2 separate regions of the Homo sapiens genome follow, and region 2 is linked to region 1. The links come from fine-mapping of genetic effects on gene expression. Tissue or cell type: whole blood. Region 1 holds a variant in brackets; the other region holds the start of a gene. All regions are shown on one strand. Distances are from middle to middle.

Region 1 (2,500 bases):
GAGCTCCGGGGTGTCACCCTGGGATGAGAAGTCAGGGTTATAGAGTCAGAGTCATCATCTGAAATTTGGGGAGTCAGGGAGAAGAGGTGGGGATGTCACCTCTGGTCCCCACACCTGGTCTAAGTCCCCATGCTGATCTCCTCTGGGATCCAGGGTTCCATGGGAGAGATTTTGGGGGTGAACAGTGAGAATTGGAGCCTAGAGAGCCCCACATCTGACCAAAACTTTAGTGCTTGGGACTCTAGAACTGAGGTTCCCATGAAGTTTTTTTGTTTGTTTATTTGTTTGTTTGTCTTTTGAGACAGAATCTGGCTCTATCACCCAGGCTGGAGTGCAGTGGTACAATCTCAGCTCACTGCAACCTCCACTTCTTGGGTTCAAGTGATTCTCCTGCCTCAGCCCCCTGAGGAGCTGGGAGTACAGGCATGCGCCACCACACCCGGCTAATTTTTGTATTTTTAGTGAAAACAGGGTTTCACCATGTTGACCCAGCTGATCTTGAACTCCTGACCTCAGGTGATCCGCCCACCTCAGCCTCCCAAAGTGCTGGGATTACAGGCATGAGCCACCACCTCTGTTCCCCATGAAGAAGCTTTGAGAGTCAGGATGAAGAATTGGGTCCCAGATGTTCATACCTAGCCCAAGCTTCATGCTTGCATCCCTGGGGTCTGGGGTTCCCATGGGGAAAATTAGGGGTCAAGGTTGGGGGGTTGTTTCAGTTTCCACACCTGGCTGTGGCCTCCACAGTGAAGAGTTTCTGCTGGGAGCCCTCGTTCACGTTTGCAGAGATGTCAGATATTGTCTGTCCACCTTGGGGCAGCAAGAGGGCTAGAGGGGTTCCAGGCTCCCCGCAAGATAGATTCTGGGGAGCATGGCCTGGAAGTCCTCAGGGTGGGTGCGATGCCCCCTCCCTCCTCGTTCTAGAGGAAAAGGGCCTGGGGCAGAGCTGCATCCCCTCCCGACTTTCTGGACTGCCTGAATGCCGCAGTCTTCAGTGCTGGGTCCTGGGCCTCCCCGCTCTTCTCAACTCCTTGCTGGGTTGTACCATGCACCCTATCCCTCAGCTTCTCATGTCTGCACCAGCGCTACTGCCCATATTTCTATCTGGGCCTCAGCCTTGTGCTGGTTGCTGCCGCCCTCGATGTGCCCTCGCATCCACTGGGTCCCACACTGGCCTCAGCATCTCCCCACACCTTCTCCTGGGTCCCCATCCCAGGGATGACATCTTTTCTGGGGCCCTTAGAAGGGTACTGGTCAGGAACACACACCCTTCCCACTCCAGAGGCTTCATGCTGCCCCCTGCCACCCAGTTCACCCACACTCACTCAGGAGAATGGTGATGTCAGGTGCTGGCTTCGCGTCCCCAGACACACAGTTGACCACGTACTCCTGCCCAGCTACCCAGGTGACCATGGTGCCTGCCTCTGGGGTCAGCAGGAGCAGCTTGGGAGGAACTGGTGAGAGAAGGGTCTGGGGTAAGCTTCCAGCACTGAGAAGGACTTGAAGATTGGAGTTCGGT[A/G]CCCAGAGTCTGGGAGAGGAGAGGCTGGGGGCTTGGACTTCCGGGTTGCGGGGTAGGGGAGGGCTTGAAGCCCAGACTCATGGGTCCTGGGCGTCTCTCACCCATACCCAGGATGGAGAGGATCACTCTGGGAGACACGAGCTCGGGCCCCATCTCAGAGCGGCCGACCTGGCACTCATACTCCGCGTCATCGCTGAGGTCACAGGCCTCGATGTGCAGGTGGAATTCACCTGCAGGGGGAGCCGGAAGTCAGGGCCGCAGCTTCCGCTGGTGGCTGAGGGTCTCAGGCTCTGATCCCTTACCTCTAGCAGGGTCCCCTTCCAGGCGGTACCTCGGGAAGCCTGGGATCCTGGGGTCGGGGCCCAGGAGCAGCCCATCTTTGGCCCATTGCACCGCACTGCCAGGGGTGCTGACCCCACAACGCAGCTCCACTGAGGCCCCCTCCACCACCGTCAGGTTTTCAGGCAGGGCCCAGAAGCCCCGGGGAACGGAGGCAGGAATCGCCAACTGCGCCAGGCCTGAGGACACAGCGCGGTGCAAGGAAAGGGCAGAGGGTTTGTCTAGGGAAGGTAAGTGGGAAATGGGGGCCACTTGGCGCTGGGTACAAGGCTGGGATCCCACTCACCTTCAGTCAGCAGCCCCAGGAGCAGGAGAGAAGCCCTGAGCGTCGTCCCCAGGGCCATCACAGGTCCCCCTACTGTGACCCCCACAGCGCCCGCTGCCAGCCACCTGCGTCTGTCTGGCTTTCTCTGGGTCCCTCTCTGTGTGTCTCTGCCACCTGCTTTTCTTTTTTATCTCTTTCCGTTACTCTCCTCCCTTTCTCGTTTTCCTCTTCCCCTCTTCCCTGTGAGTATCTCTCTCTGTCTTGCTCTCAGTCTCAATCTCTGAGTCTCTTTCTCTGTCTCTTTAAAAAAACTTTTTTTTCTTTTTTCTTTTTTTTTTCTTTTTTTTTTTTTTAGAGACGGGGTCTCACTATGTTGG
Region 2 (2,741 bases), 52 kb after region 1:
ACCGTGTTGGCCAGGCTGGTCTCGAACTCCTGGCCTCAGGTGACCCGCCTGCCTTGGCCTCCCAAAGTGCTGGGATTACAGGCTTGAGCCATGGTGCCTGGCTGGGGCCTGGATTTCTGGGTCTGTGTCTAAGGGGGTGCTGGAGGCTTTGTCTCCTGGGTCCTGCCCATGGGGGTAGGGGTAGGAGTGGGGATGGAGATGGGGTGGGGGCAGGGAGAATATTACTGGGTCCAGAGGGAGGCAGGACTGGGGGTCTAGACTCCCAGAGGAAGGGTCTGTGGGTAAGGGTATAGGGTGTGGCTCAATTTCTCCCTCTCCCCTACATCACCCTTTTTAGAGGTCTGGTTTCATTTACTCATTCATCATTTAAAATAATTTATTGCAGCAGAGGAGGCATTTTGCTGTGTATTGTGAACTAAGCAGGCAGGAATTCCCAGCCCTGGAGCTGGCATTCCAGTGGGAGGCCACTCTCAGTTTCACTTGGTGACCTTTCACAGCACTGACCATGTTGGCCCTATTTCTCCCCTGCTTGCTTGCTTTTCTATTTTATTTTATTATTACATTTTTATTGTTAGAGAGAGGGTCTCATTCTGTCGCCCAGGCTGGAGTGCAGTGGCAAAGTGGTGAGATCTCGGCTCACTGCAACCTCCACTTGCCTCAGTCTCCCAAGTAGCTGGGATTACAGGAGCCTGACACCATGCCCGGGTAATTTTTGTATTTTTGTAGAGACGGGGTTTCACCATATTGGCTTGAACTCCTGATCTCAGGTGATCCCCCCACCTTGGCCTCCCAAAGTGCTGGGATTACAGGCATGAGCCACTGCGGTGGCCTCTCCCCTGCTTTCAAGATGCCATGCTCTCAGGGGTCCCCTCCCTCTTTCTCCATTTCCCTGGCAAAGTTCCTCCTCTTCCCCCATTCAGTGTGTGTTGTGATAGGGGCAGAATCCTGTCTGCACTCACTTCCTTGGTGATCTCACCCAGTCTTGTGGCTTTAAGTACCATCCATAAGCCATCAACCCCCAAATTTACATCTCCAGACCAGCCTTATCCCCTGAACTCCTAAATGCAGTGAGGTTATTCAGCATCTCCACAGGGAGATTGTCAGGCATTTCCAACCCTGTATGCCCAAACCTCGTCACTTTCCCCGCAAACCCACTTCCCTACCTTTCATCTCTGCCAGCAGACACTCCCATCTTCTCAGCGTTTCATGCCAGAAGGCTTGGCTGTCTAGGATCCCTCTCAAACACACCCACATTCATTTAATCAGCAAATTTTCTTGGCCCTACCTCCAAAATATTTCCAGATCTCCCTAGCCTGCACACCCTTGCCACCTGTCATTCCCACTTGGACCAGGCCAGCAGCCTCCCTGGTCTCTCTGACCCTCCCCCTGAGTTCGTTCACCAAAGGCAGTAACGGAGACACCCCCTCAACACACACAGGAAGCAGATGGCCTTGACACCAGCAGGGTGACATCCGCTATTGCTACTTCTCTGCTCCCCCACAGTTCCTCTGGACTTCTCTGGACCACAGTCCTCTGCCAGACCCCTGCCAGACCCCAGTCCACCATGATCCATCTGGGTCACATCCTCTTCCTGCTTTTGCTCCCAGGTGAAGCCAGTGGTTACAGGGGATGGTAGGCAGAGCGTTTGTGAGATGGGTGCTTGGGTGACGTCTGCAGGGACGGGTGATGAAAGTGGGGTTCTTCTCCCTGCACCCCTTCCCTTCTGGGAGATCCATTCTGCTTCAGGGCCTGGGTCCTTGGGGGCGGAAGGGGGTGAGACAGGGAGTTCTGGAGGGGCTGCCTGTTAGCGTCCCCTTCTCATGGCTGGGTCTCTGCTGCCACTTCCAATTTCTTGTCACTCTCCATGTCTCTGGGAGTCCCCTTCCCATGTGGTCCTGTTCCATCTCTCCAGCCTGGAGATTACTTCTCAGGACACTACCTTTCCTTCTCTACACCCTATTTTTTGGTTTGTTTATTTTGAGATGGGGTCTTGCTCTGTTGTCCAGGCTGGAGTGCAGTGGCACAATCACGGCTCACGGCAGCCTTGACTTCCTGGGCTCAGGTGATCCTCCCAGCTCAGCCTCCCGAGTAACTGGGATTACAGGTGTGAACCAACACTTCCAGCTAATTTTTGTATTTCTTGTAGAGACGAGGTCTCACTATGTTGCCCAGGCTGGTCTCGAACTCCTGGGCTCAAGCGATCTTCCTGCCTCGGCCTCCCAAAGTGCTGGGATGACAGGCGTGAGCCACGGTGCCAGGCTGAGCATTCTGTTTTGTGGACCTTCTCTCCACCCTCATCCACCTTCTTTCTCTTTCCACAGTGGCTGCAGCTCAGACGACTCCAGGAGAGAGATCATCACTCCCTGCCTTTTACCCTGGCACTTCAGGTATCACTTCCACCCCAGAAGCTTGGCCAGAGGCTCCCAGAACACCCCAGTGGTTCTCCAGGTCACCATCCCACCTCCCGTCCCCAAATCAGAGGATCCGTGTCCTTCTCCGAGTCCCAGAATCAGCGACCCCCAGCCTGTGTTCAGGAGCACCCCGTGTGCCCGCCGCACAGCCCCGAGGGTCCTGGGACACCCCAGCCTCTCTGCATCTGTCTCCCGTTTCATTCCCCAAGCGCAACTCCAAGGAACCTGGGACCCGCCCCCTCGCAGGGGACTTCCTCTCTGCCTGTGGCCAAAGCACAGCCCCAGGACGCAGAGCTTGAGTTGTCTCCCTGTTCCGGCCCCCACTCTCCA

What was found. PIP is the estimated chance that this variant, and not a neighbour inherited with it, causes the effect.
Region 2: it holds the start of HCST, and the variant in region 1 is fine-mapped to the expression of HCST in whole blood (TOPMed, PIP above 0.99).

The regions. Positions count from the first base shown.
Region 1 is chr19:35,849,636-35,852,135 of GRCh38, forward strand. It overlaps NPHS1 (NPHS1 adhesion molecule, nephrin), which reads right to left. Exons shown (of 29, transcript NM_004646.4): 1 at 2,145-2,500; 2 at 1,822-2,037; 3 at 1,627-1,749; 4 at 1,326-1,454; 5 at 729-810; 6 at 1-18. The coding sequence starts at 2,202. It also overlaps a transcript of KIRREL2 not described here. Among named protein-coding and RNA genes, the nearest start is that of NPHS1, 1.6 kb to the right of the region's middle. RefSeq lists enhancers at 1,515-2,155, 2,156-2,500. The variant A/G (reference allele first, on the strand shown) is at 1,520.
Region 2 is chr19:35,901,030-35,903,770 of GRCh38, forward strand. It overlaps HCST (hematopoietic cell signal transducer), which reads left to right and starts at 1,500. Exons shown (of 4, transcript NM_014266.4): 1 at 1,500-1,607; 2 at 2,322-2,387. The coding sequence starts at 1,565. It also overlaps a transcript of NFKBID not described here.